3 linked regions of the Homo sapiens genome follow. The protein of the gene in region 2 purifies or fractionates together with the protein of the main gene of each other region. This does not show direct contact. Each region holds a gene or a part of one and is shown on either strand. Other genes may lie near its edges.

Region 1 (7,028 bases), on a different chromosome or scaffold from region 2:
AAATGAGCAGTTTTGATTATGGATGTCCTCTAGCAAAATCATAAAGTGGTTACAGTAGACCACTTCAGTCAGTTTTACCTTTGCAAATTTTATACAATCTCTCAGACAGTTTACCTCCTATTTGTTAGCCCATTGAATCTGTATCATTTTAACTTCTCAGCTAAAAGACTTTCCACCTTTGTCTTTTTATCAGCTTTTTCCACTTGAAACTATTCCATAAGCTTCTTGATAATAGTCAATTTCTACTCATTTGGTAAAACTTTTTTGAGTATTTACTATATCATAGTAAGTAAGCAAGTTTCCAGGAAAAATAAGATCTAGTTCTTACCCCCAAAAAGAAGAGCAAACATAATATAATATTCAAGGCATAATGAAATAGTTGCTTTAAAATGTCTAAGCTTACTGTGGAAGCTAAGTGTAAGAAAAAAGTTGTTACTAAAGAGAAAATGGGGGACTTCAAAAATATTAAAGAATGAATAGAATTTTGAGACCTAGAGAAGAAGGTTATTTTAAGAAAATAACATACACAAGTATTTGAAAATATGAACATTTAGAACTTACTTAAAAGGTTTAGTAAGATACTGTCTAGAAAATTAGGTTCTGGATTTAAACTTTAAAAGTTTTCTATTAGACATCCAGAATTTTGTACTACGCTGTATTAGTGGGGAGCCAATGCAGTTTTTTAAAGTGGAAAATAATATAATGCAACCTTTGTTAAAAGAGCCTAAAGATTTTAACTAGCATAATACAGGATAAGTTAACTTACTTTACTACAGAGAAATGTGTATAGCTACTATACATCTTCCGTTTTTGCTGGGCATTTAATTAGAACTAACGCTTTTGACGTGACAGTCAGCATGGCAATGAATAGTCAGATAATGGATTCCTTTTACAACAGTGCTTGTTCAAGTTGCTGCTTCTGTCTGGAATTCTCTTTCTTCACTTCTACCAGTGGTGAGATTTGCCCATACTTTAGGCATCCTCTCAGGTATCATCTCTGTAACAAAACCACCAATGTATCCTATTCATCTATCCTTCATCCTTCTTAGAGTCTGTGCTCTTCCTTATGTTCTTATATCATCTTATACTTAACTTTTATTGTGGTTTATTTATAGTATTTATATGGTATAGTTTGTATACTATATATATTATAGTTTATAATATTTAAAATGCATTACTATTAATCCTTATGTATCTGTCTCTCATGTTTGATTTTGAACTCCTTGAAGGCAAATAACTTGTCAGTTTATTTCAGTATTACTAGCATAATTTTCAATAAATCTTGAGTTATTTGTTAAATTAACATTAAACATCACTGCAGTATTACACAAATGAGCTTCTTACTAATTTGTGCTATTGTGATCTTTGCAATTTATTTTAAAAGCCCATGGCCATTAACCAAAAGCAGTCAAATGCTGACCTGGCTCTAGTAAATACCAATTTTCAGTGTTACCTGTGTATTTTTATCATGATTTCCAATAAAAATTTAAGTAACAAGCAGACTTTATAGTAAAACTAAAATAGTTGGGATATTAAATGATGTTGAAATCAGGAAATCATTCCATGAGCCATTTAGCAATGCAAGTACTATATCAACTGTACTAACATAACGAGAAGCTTTTACTTGCTTGTGCTTTGCAAAAATAGCCATATGACAGAGTTAGAAGACAGCTTGCTACTCAAAGTGTGGTCCCTGTCCAGCATTATTAGCATCTCCTGGGAGCTTGTTAGGAGGAAGAATCCCAGGTCCCACCTAGACCTACTTAGTCAGAATCAGCATTTTAACAAGATTTCCCAGCTGATTTATATGCACATTAAGGTGTGAGAAGCACTTTTTCCCTAATAACATTTTAATATGATTTCCAAATGTATATCTTCACTGGAGAAAATTTTGAAACTACAGGAAAAAACAAAAAGGTAAAAAAAAGTATACATAATTCTGCCAAAAGGTAATGACTGTTAATTTTTGTATATATACTCTATTTTGTGTATAGACACACAAATTTCTACCAGCTCCAATTTTTTTTTTTTAAACAGAGTCTTACCGTGTCACCCAGGCTGGAGTGCAGTGGTGGGATTTCGACTCGCTGCAGCCTCTGCCTCCCAGGCTCAAGCGATCCTCCCATCTCAGTTTCCCAAGTAGCTGGGACTATAGGCATGTGCCACCATACCCGGCTAATTTTTTGTATTTTTGGTAGAGGTGGAGTTTCACCATGTTGCCCAGGTCGATCTTGAACTCCTGAACTCAAGTGATCTGCCTGCCTTGGCCTCCCAAAGTGCTGGGAATACAGGCCTGAGCCACTGCACCCAGCCCAGCTCCAGAATTTGGATCTTTCAAAACATAATGTTTAGTTAACATTTTTCTTTATAAAGAGTTGTTCTACAATACTATTTTGTATTAAATCATAAGGATATACTATAATTTATTTAACCAATCATTGGCCATCTAGGCTGTTTTTAATGTTTTGCTATTAAAAAATGCCATGATAAACATCTTTATAACTAAATATTTGTACATATTTAGGATTATTTTTATATTTTATAGGATTAATTTGAAGAAGTTATGACCATTTTAAGGCTTTTGCATTAAATTAATTGAATCCCAGATAAACATGCATATCTTTTTGGAGTTAATTATTATAATAATTATTTTTTCATAGATTATAGCACTTGAGAATGTGTGAAAATAATTATATAGCTACTATCCTTAATGATATTTTTAAAAACAAATTTAAGGCCAGGTGTGGTGGCTCACGCCTGTAATCCCAGCACTTTGGGAGGCTGAGGTGGGCAGATCCCTTGCAGTCAGGAGTTCAACAACAGCCTGGCCAACATGGTGAAACCCTGTCTCTACTAAAAATGCAAAAATTAGCCAGGCTCCATCTACAGGTGTGGTGGCGCACACCTGTAATCCCAGCTACTTGGGAGGCTGAGGCAGGAGAATCACTAGACCCCAGGAAGCAGAGGCTGCAGTGAGGTGAGATTGCACCACTGCAGTCCAGCCTGGGTGACAGAGTGAGACTCTATCTCAAAATAAATTAAAATAAAATAAAATAAAGAAAACACATTTAACATTGTAAAATTTATTCTCAAAACAGTATATTGATATTTTTAAAAATTAAAAATATAATGGCCCATTATACTTCCTTCTGTTACAACTACCAGGGTCATGGTAAGAACATTATATGTTTGTCCCCTCCAAATCTCATGTTGGAATGTGATCCCCAGTGTTGGAGGTGGGGCCTAATGGGAGGCGTTTGGGTCATGGGGGAGGATCTCTCATGAATGGCTTGGTGTCCTCCCAATGGGTAATGAGCTGGTTCTTGCTTTATTAGTTCATGCAATAACTGGTTGTTTTTTTAAAACAAACATGGCACTTCCCCCTCTCTCTTGCTCCCTCTCTTTGCCTGTGACATGCCTGCTCCCTCTTTGCCTTCTGCCATCATTGAAAGCTTCCTGAGGCCCTCATCAGAAGCAGATGTTGGCAGTATGCTTCTTCTACAGTCTGCAGAACCATGAGCCAAAATAAATCTCTTTATAAATTATTCTGCCTTAGGTATTTCTTTATAGTAATGCCAAAATAGACCAGTCCATAACAAAAATCTGAATGTGAAAAATATGGATTTGAGAATTTAACTCCATTCTTAATAAGTTGACACTGGAAAGTTTATTTCTTCCTCCCTCCCCCTCAGCTTTATTAAGGTATACTTGACAAATAAAATTGCGTATATTTATAATGTACAACATGATGGTTCAATATAAGTATACATTGTGAAATGACTAAAACAAATGAATATCCACCTCACATAGTTACTTTTTCATGGCAAAAAATTTAAGATTGAATCTCTTAGCAATTTTCATGTAGTCATACCTCAGAGATACTGCAGGTCCAGTTCCAGACCACCACAATACAACTAAAGTCACAGTAAAGCAAGTCACACATTTTTTGGTTTCCCAGTGCATTTAAGTTATGTTTACTCTATAGTCTATTCAGTGTGCAATAACATTATATCTTTTTAAAAGTACATATCTTAATTTGAAATTATTTTATTGCTAAAAAAATACTAATGATCATCTCAGCTTTCAGCATTTCCCAATTTTTTTGCTGGTGGAGGGTCTTGCATTGATGTTTGCCTGCTGATTGATCAAGGTGATGGTCGCTGAAGGTTGGGATGGCAGTGGCAATTTCTTAAAATAAGACAACAAAGTGACACACTTGACTGACTCTTATTTTCATAAAAGATTTCTCTGTAGCATGTGATGTTTTTGGTAGCATTTTACCCACAGTAGAACTTCTTTTAAAATTGGAGTCAGTTCTCTCAAACCTTGTTACTGCTTTACCAACTAAGTTGATGTAATATTCTAAATTCTCAGGTGTCATTTCAATAATCTTCACAGCATCTTCACCAGAAATAGATTCCATCTCAAGAAACTACTTTCTTTGCTCATCTGCAAGAAGCAACTCCTCACTCGTTATAGTTTTATCAGGAGATTGCAGCAATAGAGTCACATCTCCAGGCTCCACTTTTAATTCTAATTATCTTGTAATTTTTTACCACATCTGCAGTGACTTTCTCCACTGAAATTTTAAACCGCTCAAACGCATCTATGAGAGTTGGAAACAACTTCTTCCAAACTCCTGTTGATGTTGATATTCTGACCTCCTCCCATAAATCACAATGTTCTTACGGCATCTGGAATGGTAACTCCTTTTCAGAAGGTTTTCAATTTACTTTGCCCAGATCCATCAGAGGAATCACTATCTGTGACACCTTTAGCCTTATAAAATATATTTCTTAAATAATAAGACCTGATCCATGCCTGCAGAATGGATGTTGTGTTATCAGGCATGAAAACAACGTTCATCTCCTTGTACATCGAGCTCTTGGGTGATCAGGTGCATTGTCAATTAGCACTAATATTTTAAAAGGAATCTTTTTCTGAGTGGTTCCCAATGGTGGGCTTAAAATAGTAAACAATGCTGCAAACAGATATGGTGTCATCTAGCCTTTCACATTCCATTTATAGAGTACAGGTAGAGTAGATTTAGCATAGTTTTTGAGGGCACTAAGAGTTTCTAAATGGTAAATGAATATTGGCTTCAATTTGAAGTCACCAGATGTATTAGCCCCTAGCGAGAGTCAGCCTGTCCTTTGAAGCTTTGAAGCCAGGCATTGCCTTCTCTCTAGCTAGGAAAGTTCTAGATGGCATCTTCTTCCAATAGAGCACTGTTAATTCTGCATTGAAAATCTGTTGTTTAGTCTAGCCACCTTCATCAATTATTTTAGCTAGATCTTCTGGATAACCTGGTGCAGCTTCTCCATTAGCACTTGCTGCTTCACCTTGTACTTTTATGTTATAGAAAGGGCTTCTTTCCTTTAAACCTCATGAACCAACCTCTGCTAGCTTCAGACTTCTGCAACTTCCTCACCACTCTTAGCCTTTATAGAATTGAAGAGTGTCAAGGCCTTGTTCTTAATTAGGCTTTGGCTTAAGGAAATGCTATGACTGGTTTGATCTTTCCAGACCACACAACTTTCTCTATATCAACAATAAGGCTGTTTTGCCTTCTTATCATTAGTGTGTTCACTGGAGCAGCACTTTTAGTTTCCTTCAGTAACTTTTTTCTTTTGCATTCTCAGCTTGGCTGTATGGTGCAAGAGGCCTAGCTTTTGGCCTGTCTCAGCTTTCAACATACCATCCTTACTAAGCTTAATCATTTCTAGCTTTTGATTTGAAGTGAGAGATGTGCAATTCTTCCTTTCGTCTGAACACTAAGAGGCCATTGTAAGGCTATTGATCGGCGTAATTTCAGTATTGCTGTGTCTTAGGGAATAGGAAGGCCCAAGGAGAGGGAGAGAAATGGGGGACTAGCTGGTGAGTGGAGCAGTCAGAGCACACACAACCCTTATCAATTAAGCTCACCATTTTATTTGGGTGCAGTTTGTGGTGCCCTAAAACAGTTAAAATAGTAACATCTGAACACAGATCGCCATAACAGATATAATAATAATGAAAAAGGAAATATTGTGAAAATTATTAAAATGTGACACAGAGACATGAAGTGAGCACATGCTGTAAGAAAAATGGCACCAACAGATTTGCTTGACACAAGGTTGCCCCAACCCTCAATTTGTGAAAAGTGCAATATCTGCTGAGTGCAATAAAGCAACACACAATAAAATGAGGGGTGTGCCTGTATTAATGCATTATTATTAACTGCAGTTACCATTCTATACGATGAATCTCCAGGACTTATTCATCCTGTCTAAGTGAAATTTTGTACCCTTTAGCCAACATCTCCTAAATCTTCCTTCCCTGAACCCTCCCATCCTTCAGCCCCTGACAACCAGCATTCTATTCTCTACTTCTGCGATTTTGATGTTTTTAGGTTCCACATGTGTGACATTATGCAATATTTGTGTTTCTGTGTCTGCCTTATTTCACTTAATATAATGTCTTCCAGGTTCATTCACTCTATCACAAATGAAAGAATTTCCTTCTTTCTTAAGGTTGATAGTGTATTCCAGTGTGTAGAATACCATACGTCGATGCCATATCTTGTGAATAATGCTGTAATGAACATGGGAGTACAGATATCTAGATATCTCTTAGACATACTGATTTCTTTCTTTTGATACATACTTAGAAGCTGGATCATATGATAGTTCATTTTTAATTTTTTGAGGATCCTTCATATCATTTTCCATAATGGCTGTACTAATGTATATTCTCACCAACAGTGTGCAAGGGTTCTGTTTTCTCCAGGTCTTAACCAGTGCTTGTTATCTTTTGTCTTTTTTATAATAGCCATTCTAACAGATGTGAGGTAGTAGCTCATTGTGATTTTAATTTTCATTACCCTCATGAGTAGTGATGTTGAGCATTTTTCATATACCCATTGACCATTTTTATGTCTGCTTTTGAGAAATGCCTATTCAAGTCACCTGCCCATTTTTTAAATTGGGTATTTGTTTTCTTGCTATTGAGTTGTTTGAGTTCCTTATATATTTTCAATATGAACTCCT
Region 2 (7,028 bases):
GTAGGACAAGTAAATAGACTCTAGTAGGCAGAAAGAAGTGCGAAGGGAAAAATGAATCAGAGAAGTGGAGAGGGTTGTGATTTTAGATGAAGTGGCCAAGAAAAGCCTCAATGAGCAGGTGATAGTTTTCAACAAAGATCTGAAGGGAGGTAAAGCAGTGAGCCATGGGTATACATCTTAGGGGAGAGGGTTCCAGGCAGAGGGAACAGCAAGAGCAAGGGTCCTGACAGGGGAACATGCCTGGCAGTCGAGGAACGGCAAGGAGGCAAGTGTGGCCGAGGGAAGAAGGTGAGAGGGGGGAAGGAGTGATGGGAGCTGAACCATAAATCAGGAGGGGAAAGGGAACTCAGATCATATTGGGCCTTGTAGACCATTGTCAGGACTTACTTTTGCCTTTTACTCAGAATGACCAGTGGGATTTGCAAGGGAAATTTTTCCTACTTGCTATGTGTTCCATTCTAGTTTGATTCAGGAACCCTGAGTGCAGTAGGCAGGGGCCTTTGCCCAACCCCAAATGGAGAAGTGCTCCACAGCAGGAAGGCTCAAGAATAACTTGCACCATTCATCTTCACTATGCTCAAGATACCCCTCCTAATGAGAACGGTGAGTGGCGTCCGCTGGAGCATAGAAGGCGTGGAGCCAGAAATCCCTGACTTTTCCTCCTTCACACCTGACCAGGCCTTCCTAAGGCCTGGGAAACTGCCCTGAGGGCTGTAGGCTTTGAGGTGCTGGCCTGGGGAACAGAGAGAGCTGGAACTTTTCCCAGGGGTAGGGGAGTTCGCCTCCACCAATTTCAACTGGTCTCTGTTCCACAGAAGCACAATGAGAAGGATTTCAAGCCTTTTTTTTTTTTGAGACAGGGTCTCACTCTGTCACCCAGGCTGAGTGCAGTGGCACAATCACAGCTTACTGCAGCCTCGACCTCCTGGGCTCAAGTGATCCTCCCACCTCAGCCTCCTGAGTAGCTGGAACTATACGTGCATACCACCACGCCCGGCTAATTATTATTATTATTTTTTGAGACGGAGTCTTGCTCTGTCGCCCAGGATTGAGAATGCAGTGGTGTAATCTCAGCTCACTGCAACCTCTGCCTCCTGGGTTCAAGCGATTCTTCTGCCTCAGCCTCCCGAGTAGCTGGGATTACAGGCGCCCAGCACCACGCCTGGCTAATTTTTGTATTTTTAATAGAGACGGGGTTTCACCATATTGGCCAGGCTGGACTTGAACTCCTGACCTTGTGATCTGCCCACTTCGGCCTCCCAAAGTGCTGGGCTTACAGGCGTGAGCCACTATGCCTGGCCTAATTTTTTAGTTTTATAGAGATGGGGTCCCACTATGTTGCCCAGGCTGTCTCAAACTCTTAGGCTCAAATGATTGATTCTCCCGTCTTGGTATTTCAAAGTGCTGGGATTACAGATGTGAACCACTGCGCCTGGCCCAAGCCATTCTCCTTTATTCACTCACCAGTTATGCAAAGTAATCCAGGGCCTTCTCAGCAAAGCTGCCACACGAAGAAGTCAGAGTCAGACACAGGCAGAAGAACAAAGGAATTCATGGGATTGTACATCTTACTATGCAGGCAATATATTCCAAAGCCAAATCAAAAAGTCTTTTGATCCATCTGCATCCCCTCTGTTAACAGGAGCATTCTAAAGTTGGTGGTGGAGGCTGGGTGCAATGGCTCACACCTGTAATCCCAGCACTTTGGGAGGCCAAGGCAGGAGGATCCCTTGAGGCCAGGAGTTCGAGGCCAACCTGAGCAACATAGCACGACCCTGTCTCTACAAAAAAAAATTAAAAATTAGCCAGGTGTGGTGACACGTGCCTGTCTACTTGGAAGGCTGAGGTGGGAAGATCGCTTGAGCCCAGGAGTTCAAAGCTGCAGGGAGCTAGGATCGAGCCCCTGCACTGCAGCCTCGGTGACAGAGTGGGACCCTGTCTCTAAAAAAAATAAACAAAATAATGGTGGTGGAGAACTCCTATTTTGGAGGAGCATCTCCCTCCTTAGGCCACTAGGCCCCCATTTAATGCACCAGCATGGACAAATTGCTTAAGTAGGAAGAGCAGATTTTCCCAGGGAAATGTAAGGTTAGAATGATACAGACACAGGGAAAATGATTGTGATTGTGCATTTCACCTTCAAAGACTATCCCACCTTGATTTTGGAACTGAGATGGAGATGATGTTTACTTATTCTAGTCAGCCCCCTTTGATACCATCTCCTAGATTTTCCAGACTTCAAACTTTTGATCTGCTGAGAGTCTCTTTATTGTTCTTCACACCGGTGTACCATGCTGGAGTGGTCGGCCTAACTTACCGAAAAATATTCGTCAATTTGTTTAAGACCCTTTTCCACAGTGAATTCACCGTGAGTCATCCACTTGATGTTTTTCAAAGGGTTTCGCTCCTCTGCAAAAAAAAGGTGTGAGTTCGTTAGTTGCCAGGTAGTGTGGTGCTATATTTAGACTATATAGACAATTATTTAGGCATCCAAACAAACAGGATCACTACCTTCCACAATCTTAACAGCATAATTGATGACATCCTCAACCAGAGCTAGAGCTACTTGAGTCAATTCATCCTCGTAGTTCTTGTCTTGTGTATTCGGCATTGTTTGGCTTGCGGCTTTGTTATCCTCATCCATTGCTTTCTGGCTTGTTGAATTTTGAGTCTCACTCATTTTCTTTTTCCTGGGGAAAAAAAGAAGTTACTGTGTGCCTGTGTGTGTACACACATGTGAACGCACTCATATAAGTACAGATCATCTCTTGAAGAATCACAAGAGACAGGAAGCAGTTATTGCCTCTAGGGAGGGGATTAGGGGTTTAAGGGTAGGAGTCAGACCTGTGCCTGGCTGCTGCTATCTACTTTTCCTGAAAACCAAGGATTCTCACATTCTCAAAATCATAATGAGGCCCGGCGCGGTGGCTCACGCCTGTAATCCCAGCCCTTTGAGAGCCCGAGGCGGGCGGATCACCTGAGGTCAGGAGTTCAAGACCAGCCTGACCAACATGGTGAAACCCCGTCTCTACTAAAAATGCAAAATTTGCCGGGTGTGGTGGCGGGCGCCTGTAATCCCAGCTACTTGGGAGGCTGAGGCAGGACAATTGCTTGAACCTGGGAGGTGGAGGTTGCAGTGAGCCAAGATCGCGCCATTGCACTCCAGCCTGGGCAACAAGAGCAAAACTCCATCTCAAAAACAAAACAAAAAACAAAAAAAACACCATAATGACTTAAATCAAAATGTAGTAGAAAAAAAGTAGCACTTCTTTGGAGTGCCTAGCAATATTGATTCCAAGTTGAATCTTTGATAAGAAACCCAATCCCTGCTAGGAGCAACTGAGGGCACCTGGCTCTTTTAAAATGATGTTAAAATGAAGTGGGTGTGGTGGCATGTGCCTGTAATCTCAGCTATTCAGGAGGCTGAAGCAGGGGGACAGTTTGAGGCTATGAGTTTGAAACCAGCCTGGGCAACATAGTGAGATCTCCCCACTCCCCAACCTGTCTTAACTTTTAAAAAGAAATATAAAGGCCCGGCGCGGTGGCTCACGCCTGTAATCCCAGCACTTTGGGAGCCTGAGGCAGGCATATCACGAGGTCAGGAGTTGAAGACCACTCTGGCCAACATGGTGAAACCTCGTCTCTACTAAAAATACAAAAATTAGCTGGGCATGGTGGCTCATGCCTGTAATCCCAGCTACACAGGAGGCTGAGGCAGGAGAATTGCTTGAACCGGGACCCAGGAGGCAGAGGTTGCTGTGAGCCGAGATCGCACCACTGCACTCCAGCCTTCCAGCCTGGGCTACAGAGGGAGACTACATCTCAAAAAAAAAAAAAAAGTATAAAGACAGTGTTTTGTTTTTTGTTTGTTTGTTTGTTTGTTTGAGTCAGAGTTTTGTTCTTGTTGCCCAGGCTGGAGAGCAATGGCGCTATCTCGGCTCACCGCAACCTCCGCCTCCCGGGAGAATCCAGGTTCAAGTGATTCTCCTGCTTCAGCCTCCCGAGTAGCTGGGATTGGAGGCATGCGCCACCACGCCCGGCTAATTTTGTATTTTCAGTAGAGATGGGGTTTCTCCAAGTTGGCCAGGCTGGTCTCGAACTCTTGACCTCAGGTGATCCACCCGCCTCGGCCTCCCAAAGTGCTGGGATTACAGGCGTGAGCCAGCGCGCCGGCTAAGATAGTGTTTTTTTTTTTTTTGAGACAAAGTTTCGTTCTGTCGCCCAGGCTGGAGTGCAATGGCACAATCTTGGCTCACTGCAACCTCCGCCTCCCGGATTCAAGTGATTCTCCTGTCTCAGCCTCCCGAGTAGCTGGGACTACAGGCGTGTGCCACCATGCCTGGCTAATTTTTTGTAGTTTTAGTAGAGACGGGGGTTCACCATGTTGGCCAGGCTGGTCTTGAACTCCTGACCTCAAGTGATCCACCCACTTTGGACTCCCAAAGTGCTGGGATTACAGGTGTGAGCCACCACACCTGGCCTATAAAGATAGTGTTAAAATGAGTAGAGGCATTACAGCAGAGGAATATTGGTTTCATAATTCTCTCTCTTGGGTTTTTCCAGTACAGTATACAATTATATCATCTCCAATAAACTGTCACTTTTATCATCTTTTTTCCAGGAGTATATATCTCTTATGAGTATTAGCTTTGGTTAATACTTCCAGAAAAATGTAAAATGAAAGTGGAAATAATGAGCATCCTCCTATTGTGTCTGACTTTAATGGCCTTGCTTTCTGGTGTTACACCATTAGTATGATGCTGGTTTGTGGTTTGAGATGTATCACATCAAGAAAACATTCGTCTGTTCCTGTTCTAGTAAGATTTTTATCATAAATGATAGCTATAATCTTCCAGATGCCTTTAACATGTATTGACAATGTGAAAATTTGTGTTACTAGGGCTGTAAAGATGGCTCCATCACAGAGCTAGAAGTCTTTCCTCATTTTCAATGTTTTTTACATCTTTTCCCTTGAGTCTTAAATCCTTTCTTTTCTTGCTACTGTTTAAGTCTCTTTGCTTATGAAAAATTGCTTACTTCCAGCACAGCTTTAAATTCCTTACAGGCAGCCGGGTGCAGTGGCTCAGGCCTGTAATCCCAGCACTTCGGGAGGCCAAAGTGGGAGGATCGCTTAAGTGCAGGGGATTGAGATCAGCCTGGACAACATAGCAAGGCCCCATCTCTACAAAAGTTTAAAAAATTAGCCAGGTATGGTGATGTGTGCCTGTAATCCCAGCTTTCTACTCACAAGGCTGATGTAGGAGGATCACTTGAGCCTGGGAGGTCGAGGCTGCAGGGAGCCGTGATCTCACCACTGTACTCCAGTCTGGGTGACAGAGCGAGACCCTGTCTCAGAGAAAATAAAAAACATGGCCAGGCACGGTGGCACACGCCTGTAATCCCAGCAATTTGGGAGGCCAAGGGGTTAGATCACCTGAGGTGAGGAGTTTGAGACTAGCCTGGCCAACATGGAGAAACCCCATCTCTACTAAAAATACAAAAATTGGCCTGGGCCAGGTTTGGTGGCTCATGCCTGTAATCCCAGCTCTTTGGGAGGCCGAGGCGGGTGGATCACCTGAGGTCAGGAGTTCAAGACCAGCCTGGCCAACAAGGCAAAACCCCGTCTCTACTAAAAATACAAAAATTAGCCAGGTGTGGTGGCACGTGCCTGTAATCCCAGCTACTCGGGAGGCTGAGGCAGGAGAATCGCTTGAATCTGGGAGGCGGAGGTTGTGGTGAGCCCAGATCACGCCATTGCACTCCAGCCTGGGCAATGAGAGTGAGACTCCATCTCAAAAAAAAAAAAAGTTGGACTGGCATGGTGGCCAGCACCTGTAATCCCAGCTACTCGTGAGGCTGAGGCAGGAGAATTGCTTGAACCCGGGAGGCAGAGGTTGCAGTGAGCCGAGATTGTGTCGCTGCACTCCAGCCTGGTGACAGAGCAAGGCTGTCTCAAAAAATAAAAAATAAGTATGTTGCAAGCAATCCTTCCATTGAGTGGAAGGGCTACATGAAAGTGGGTATCTCTCTCCAAATGGAGCTATTTTTCTATAAATAACAGCTCCCAATTTGGGGGTGTTTAATGTGCTATGTTTCATTTAACTGTCATCACAGCCCTATGAAAGAGTGCGCTGGGCACCTTCCATTTGCCTTTCCAAATCCACTGTCCTTGCATCTCCTCCTGCTTCCTGCCCTGGAAAACTAACCTGACTGCACCCATAAATGGTGCCCTCTGGCTTCTAGGGGGTTCCACACAATAAGGAGATCAGGAAGTCAAAATGTATGTCCCTGGTGGTTTTCTCCCTGCGAGTTGGCTGATGGCTGGCTGCATGAAGTCCCCAGCGTCTTTCAGGGTGGCGCTCTCCCAGCTTCCCAGTGTGGTAAGGGTAAGCATTCTCTCCCCTCAACGTTTTAGGCCCACTGTTACTAGCCCCGGGGAGCTGCACCTTCCTCTGTTGCCCTGCAATCTGGCCACACCTTTGTAAATATTCCCTTACTTAACCCTTCTACAGCTATCCTCATTTTAATATGCCAACAGTTTCCTACAGGAGCCCTGAGTCACAGACAGAGGGCCTGTTGCTGCCATGTGAAAATGAGGAAACTGAGCTGTACACCCACAGTGTCTGGCTTCACAGCCCATGCTCTCAACTGTGCTGCTCTTCTCCCTCCAAGATTGAGAAAGAGCAGTAGGGCCCTATTCTCACATTTTCTTTCTTCCTTTTTTTTTTTTTTTTTTTGAGACAGAGTCTTGTTCTGTCACCCAGGCTGGAGGGCAGTGGCACGATCTCCGCTCACTGCAACCTCCGCCTCCTGGGTTCAAGCAATTCTGCTGCCTCAGCCTCCCGAGTAGCTGGGATTACAGGCACCTGCCACCACGCCCAGCTAATTTTTGTATTTTTAGTAGAGACGGGGTTTCACCATCTTGGCCAGGCTGGTCTTGAACTCCTGACCTCCTGATCCACCCACCTCAGTCTCCCAAAGTGCTGGGATTACAGGTGTGAGCCATCGCGCCTGGCCTTATTCTCACA
Region 3 (7,028 bases), on a different chromosome or scaffold from region 2:
TATTATTGTCTCTATTCCATCATTTGTTGTATGTTTGGTATGTGATAAAAAGATGCTTGCTCTTTTAATTCATAGGTCTCTATATCAAGAAGGGCTATATCTGGACCTGATGTAGATCATGAGATCCTGGATTTCAAAGATGTGATGGAACTTTTAGGGGTTTTGGGATAGGAGTGGGTCAATTTTTGCATGTGGTAAAGACATAATTATAATCAAGAAAGCAGATCGTGGTAGATTAAATTACTGGTCGCAATTCTTCACTACCCTGTAGTAGTATTATGCACACATGAAGCCTTTGCTATTGGTGAACAGTGTATTTCCTCATCCTCCTCACTTTGGGCTTCATTAGATGACTTTCTTTTGTATATGGGATGTCAGTGGAAGTGATATGAGCAAAAGCTTGAAATATTCTTGCATGCTGGGTTTTCCTGCTTGTCTTCTGTGACCAGCATGAGAAGAGCTTGTCCTGGATAACGTCTTTCAGCAGGGGCTCAGAAAAGGACACGTGAAGCAGAGGCACTGTGCTGCAGCTGACCCTTGGGCCCACAGCCTGAAGCAGACCTTCCTGTCAGCCCACAAACCCACAGCTTAGAGCTGACCTGAACCTAACCTTGAGATTGTAGTCCAGCCTAGCTTAGCTACATTACCACTGACCTACAGACCCAGGAGAAAATATAATTGTCTTAAACCACTAACTTTGGAATGGGTTGTGCAGTAGTAGTGAGATAATCACTGGCCAATATAGGTTATTGCAATAATTCACAAGGCTATCATGGGAACTAGGACCAAGGCGGTAACAATGGAAGTGGTTAGAAGTAGGCAGATTCTGAGTATTATTTTATAGGTACAGCCCACAGGTTTTGCTGATAGATTGTATATGGGGTGTGAAAGAAAGTGACGCATTAAAGATGAATCCAAGGTTTTTGGCCTGAGCAAATGGAAGAATGGAGCAGCCATTTTTGAATGGAAAAACTTGGGTGTGGGGGAAGTTTCAGATTTGGGGGCAATATCAGGATTCATTTTTTATATGTTACTTTTGAGATGCCTATAGACATCCAAATGGGGATGTTATGTAGGCAGTTGAATATAGAAGTTCGCAGGCAGAGGAGAGAAAGGTCTGGGAGTGATCATTAAGAAGATTGGATTTTAAAGCTATGAAACTGCAGGAAATCAAGTGAGTGTAGAAATGGGGTCGAAAGACTGAGCCTAAGGGCACTTAGCATTTAGTGGTTGGGGAGTTGAAGAGTTACCAGTGAAGGGAATTGAGAAGGAACAGCCAGAGAGATAAGAGGAAAACCAGATAAGTTCTAATAAAGTGTCATTCATATGTGTTGTTCTCATAATATCACATCCATTGCTCACCTTTTCCTTTTCCTCCTTCACTACCAATATCACTACCATGAGATCTGTGTGTGTGTGTGTGTGTGTATGGAATGCATAGTGCTAGTCACTTTATGTGTATAACAGGAGAATTACTGAAAAAGCTAACTCATCTTTTTTTTTTTTCCTGCTATATACTCACTAGGGAAAAAATCCCTTTTTTCCTCTTCTGATCTCTCCAGGTCAGGGAATCTAAGTCTTTGCATAAATTCTGGGTCCCCCCTTGACAATCCGCTAAGCAGGATGGCTCTGTCTGAGAGGGGAAGGTGTTAGAAGCTGGTGCTTTCAGTGGAATGGGAGGGACGAACAGCTGGAATCCTGGAGGAGAACTGATTTCTTTTCCTCTGTAAGCCTGGAGGAGAGGGGTTAAGGAGGAGAGGAAGGGGGATATTAGAGACTTGTGTTTAGCTAGCATGAAACTCTCTACAGTGGCAGCAAGATTTTGGAAGGAGAAAGGCTGCCTGTATGAGTGGACATTAGAGAATGAAAGCCACAACCTTGAAAGGGTTGGTGTGAATCAACTGTGTTTGAGTGGCGATCACTTGGGGGAACCTCTGTTGCAGAGCCTGATAAAGGCTCAGTGCCAGGGAAGGGCAGTGAGGCACCTGAAATAAAACTGCTTTGCAGAAAGAGCATGTCTAAGCCTAGGACAAGGATCAAAGTGTTTGTAGGAGAGTATTTGTTGTGACAACATAGACCTGGTTTTAGAATCTCCTCAGGACTGAGCCATCCTGGCTTGTTTTTAAGCTTTGGGGGAACACTGGCTTTGTGACTATAAACCAAGAGAGATGTAATCCTGGAACTAAATCATGGGCCATCCACTATGGTGCAGGCAGGAATTGGAACCAGCCAGAGAATCACCTCAGTCTGCTGGACTATGCTACAACATTATGGTAGAAGGCAACAGCATTAACTAAATGGTAAGACTCCACTTTCTACCTTTTGTATTGGGAAGAGAACTGCACCCTTTGGTCTAAGACATGAACCCTCAGTTTCTTGGACAATCAAGGGTGGAGAGGCCTCAAAAAGGAGAGACGGAACTTTCTAAAACTAAGGCACTAGGGATTTGAATGAATCATTGAAAACATAAAAGAGATAAAGCCTCTGAGTTTGTTAAACAGGCATTACCATTGTATATTTAAAAACTTGGGAAGTTTTAACTGAAGAAGGCAGCATGATATGATAGCTTTTGCTTTTTACAATATGATGTTATTAGTCTTGTTCTGTGTGGTTCTGGAGAGCAAAACAATAAAGCATTGTAAGTTGTATGAGTGTAAGAACAAGTATTCACTACTAATTCCCAGCACATGAATAGTACTCAATACATTTTCAATAAATGATTGAATACATGTATGATAAATGAAAACCAGTGGGTTAAACTTACAAGGAGGCAGAGGCTTTTTTTTGTTTTGTTTTGTTTTTGAGACAGAGTCTTGCTCTGTCGCCCAGGCTGGAGTGCAGTGGTGCGATCTCGGCTTACTGCAGCCTCCACTTCCCAGGTTCAAGCGATTCTCCTGCCTCAGCCTCCCGAGTAGCTGGGATTACAGGTGTGCGCACCACGCCTGGCCAATTTTTGTACTTTTAGTAGACATGGGGTTTCACCATGTTGGCCAGGCTGAAGGAGGCAGATTTTTGTCCCAGCTTATCTTTCTAAAAATTCCAAAATTAAATAGACTATCCTTAAAAAGCAGTGAAATTCTTTACCACTAGGAGTGAAACAGGAGCTAAAGAACATTTTTGGGGGATGTGATAGAGAGGATTTATTCATTTGATAATAGTTAGAACACATAACCTCTGAGATCTCTGTAATCTCAGATACTTTAGTTCTATAATTCTAAATCCAAGGGTCTCTATAGATAGGCTTGAGACAAGTGTAAACAAACTCATGATCTCAGAGAAATCTTCAAGTGGCATGTTTCAATGGTATGCTTATTAAACAAATGCTCATGACAGATTTTCACAACAGTAACGAATGTTATTTCACAACATCAAATCTTCCTTCCTCAGGAAGAAATGACATTAATAAGAAGGTTGATGGATTTGGATTATTTTTCATGTTTCCTGGAGGTAAAACCAGTGTCCTCACTTGTTTTCCTCTTTTTCCTCATTTTGAAGACTATTTGTTTTCATTTTCTTTGCCTCCTCTCTGGCTATGTGTCCCCGGAAGGCAGCTTGGATTTTGACAGCAGCAACCTCTTCTTTTTCCTTATCTTCCTCAGAAGAGTCCTTCATCGAAAGGAGAAAAAGTAAGAGACTCTTTAAATATGGCGTAGTTTTGATGCCACAAAAATAAATGGATGAAATTTAATCATTTTAGGGATGCAACTATCTGAGAGCTGTTGCTTCCTGAGGGAATTTCATATATTGTCACATTGTATATGTACCAAATGGCAAATGCCAAAATAGCAGGCATTTTGTTTTGTCACTCTTTTAATATGTCTCTGCAACAAAAGATCATTGCCAACTTTCTTTCCCCTAAAATAGTGCCTATTTAAGTTTCCTGAGCAACAACATTTTTTGGGGGGTTGGGGGGACAAGAAAGAATCCTTGAGGCATGGTAAAAATGTTAAGAAGAAAGAACTGTAAATGTTATGTTTCAAAATAATCACAATTACATATAATGAATTAGAATAACTTCTCAATTTCTCAATGATTAGTTAATCATCGTCATACATTTAAAGTGAGGTGCCAAAGAGAAATCCATTTAGTCCAATAATGTCAGTTTTAACAGGGTTGGTTGAACTTTGGCACATACCCTCTTTTAAAAAAATTGGGTATAAATTTTTAGCTATAAATTTACAGACAGTAAAATGCATGAATCTTCAGCGTACAATTGAATATACAGCTTTTAATATATCTTTTAAAATTATAGAAATGACATGTATACACTTTAAAAACTCAAATGTCACTGGCAGTGATAGTTTTCTCCACCTATCCAAATCCTGCTCTTGGGAGATACCCATTATTATGAGTTGAGTATCTACATCCTTCCAAAATTTCTCTATATGCAAATATATTCATATGGGTATATATATATATATATGTCTTTTTATTTTAAAAATGAGATCATCCTAATCACAGAGTTCTGCAGCTACTTTTTCCATGTAACGATATATCTTGGTTCTCTTTTTCTGTATTATTAGTCAGTGTATAACTCTCCCCATTCTTTTTTTATGACATCATTATATTATACTGATGTACCTTGATTTAATATTTACTCAATCTCATATTAATGGACCTTTGGGTTGCTCAAGCCTCCTATCCCCCTATTATAAATAATGAGACAAATCTAGCTCTTAAACTTTTAAATGCAAACAGAATGGTATAAAATTCTTCGAGATGACATCCTAATATAGCAAACAAATACACTCAAGTTGGAAATCAATGAGATCCCTACTCAAACTCATGAAAACCTGTGTAAAAGCACCTATGAAAGATGTAAGGAAATAAAACTCCCTTCTTCCTTGACTTCCTGTTACATCTTAATGTTAATCTTCCTGTTATATCCTAATGTAATGTTATTTCAGTACAACCCAATGGCAATTGTGGAACAACCTGTAAATCTTATAGGGAAAAGCAATGCATCACTAGGTAGGAAGTAGGGTATTCCTTGAGGGGATATCCATTCTGGCTGCCAGTTCTTGGGCAACTACCTGGGACCTGAGACATAAAAAGGAACTCAGAAGTTTGAACTTCGACATTTTAGAGAGTGAGTTCTTCTTTCTTATGAGGCCTAGTCCACAAGAGTCTGGAGTATGAAGAATATAGACAATGATGTACTGGTAAGTGTTTTAACAACTGGCTCTCCAGAAGAAACAAAGCCCTGATTTGCAGTGTTTGCCATGGTCTTAATATTCTCATTGTGGCTGACTTCAAGTTATTAAAGTGACATTACTGAACAATGGGCCTTTGAGGGTGGACTTCGCTATGTCTTTTTTTTTCTTTTTTTGAGAAGGAGTCTTGTACTGTCGCCCAGGCTGGAGTGCAGTGGCGTGATCTTGGCTCACTGCAACCTCCGCCTCCCGGGTTCACACCATTCTCTTGCCTCAGCCTCCCGAGTAGCTGGAACTACAGGCGCCCGCCACCATGCCCGGCTAATTTTTTGTATTTTTAGTAGAGATGGGGTTTCACCGTGTTAGCCAGGATGGTCTCAATCTCCTGACCTCGTGATCTGCCTGCCTTGGCCTCCCAAAGTGCTGGGATTACAGACGTGAGCCACCACGCCCGGCCTCCGCTATGTCTTGACTGCTTGGATGTAGTACATCAGGCACGAAGGCATTTTTGTAGAGCGTTATGCATGGAAGATGAATAAGCCACATTGTTGTAAAGCCATTATTTTGGCTGTATGTAATTCCCTGTGATTTTCCTTTTGTTATCTCTGAAATTTGCCATTGTGTAGTGGTGACAGCACCAATTAGTGAAAAATTCCCAAAGTGGAAGATGAATCTGAAGGATCATGACTGGGTCTGTGAGTTCTGTCTGCCCTTCCCCATAGGGAGATTTTTCCATCCATTAACAATCTTGAAAAATAAGATTTCATTTTTAAAGGAAAAATGAATTTTTGATCAAGAGAGGCATGGCTGAAAATTATCTACCAGTTAGTTTATCACTGATGTTAATTATCTGGAAAGTAAAGTCATAATTTTGACAATAAAGATAACAGACATTCATATTTGGAGTTCAGTTTTAAATTGGGCAATATCATTCTTTGTAGGAATCCAATAGTACATGAAAAATATTACATACTAAGATGGTGACTGATGTCTCTTCCTCCTTCCCAGATATCTGAGACTCTTCTTGTTTAGGATCACTTTTCTCAGGTGGTTCTTGCTCCTGGACAGATAGGAGAGAGCCACAATTAGCAATGTTTCCAAAATGGCAAAGTCTTGTATCAAACTGCTTAGAAGTAATGAAACATTACTTTAAATTACTGAGAAATAGGGGGAATTAAATACTACGTATTTATCTTTTAATAAGGAAAATACATTGAAACAAGAAGAAATAATAAAAGCTCTTAAGGAAATACGTGTAAACAAATATTAAAGACCAAATAATTGGCAAAAATGTTTGATCTGTTGCTTTTGGAATGTGTGTACCACTGTTTTATGTTAAAAATAAACCACTGTCCTATACTAAAAGTTGATAAGATGATGTAATGAATCCTGAACAAAGTATAAAAAAGAGGATCCAATAGTTTCTAAAATAGGAATAAAATAAATGGCATTGTGTTCCATAATGTGACATCAAATTGACTTTTTAGTGACGTTTATGGATTAAAACTAGTCAGAGAAGTAAGTTTTGCTGTGGAGTTTTGCTTTATGATTTAAATATAAAAGGAGAAACCACCTCTGCCTATTTTGACATGGCTATTTAAGTCTTCCTTCATTGCTAATTCACACCTATGGAAAGAGCTTCTTTAACCCATAAAACCAAAATTTAAGAATATATAAGTTAATCAAATAAAGCCTTTAGAATTAAAAAAAGAAACACCCCAAAATTGCTATGTGATGCAAGGATTTAAAATCTTTCAACATTATTCCTTTGACTTCGATAAACATGAATACAAATAAAACATGAGCACAGAGAATCTAGTAAAATGGAAATACACAGAACACACCCATACCTGCAGGCACAAATGGATGGAACTT

What was found.
Region 1: the proteins of AKAP14 (region 2) and PRKACB purify together in Homo sapiens (affinity purification with mass spectrometry; 3 studies listed by BioGRID and IntAct, with this or other methods). This does not show direct contact.
Region 3: the proteins of AKAP14 (region 2) and SPA17 purify together in Homo sapiens (affinity purification with mass spectrometry; 3 studies listed by BioGRID and IntAct, with this or other methods). This does not show direct contact.

The regions. Positions count from the first base shown.
Region 1 is NC_000001.11:84,147,248-84,154,275, forward strand, and holds part of PRKACB (cAMP-dependent protein kinase catalytic subunit beta), read left to right. Parts: intron 1-7,028. UniProt on the Homo sapiens protein: Mediates cAMP-dependent signaling triggered by receptor binding to GPCRs.
Region 2 is NC_000023.11:119,898,876-119,905,903, reverse strand, and holds part of AKAP14 (A-kinase anchor protein 14), read right to left. Parts: intron 2,691-7,028; 5' UTR 2,681-2,690; coding exon 2,512-2,680; intron 2,410-2,511; coding exon 2,318-2,409; coding exon of another isoform or gene 2,309-2,317; exon of another isoform or gene 2,245-2,308; intron 1-2,244. UniProt on the Homo sapiens protein: Binds to type II regulatory subunits of protein kinase A and anchors/targets them.
Region 3 is NC_000011.10:124,690,881-124,697,908, reverse strand, and holds the end of SPA17 (sperm surface protein Sp17), read right to left. Parts: intron 6,214-7,028; coding exon 6,127-6,213; intron 3,607-6,126; coding exon 3,463-3,606; 3' UTR 391-3,462; downstream 1-390. UniProt on the Homo sapiens protein: Sperm surface zona pellucida binding protein. Helps to bind spermatozoa to the zona pellucida with high affinity. Might function in binding zona pellucida and carbohydrates.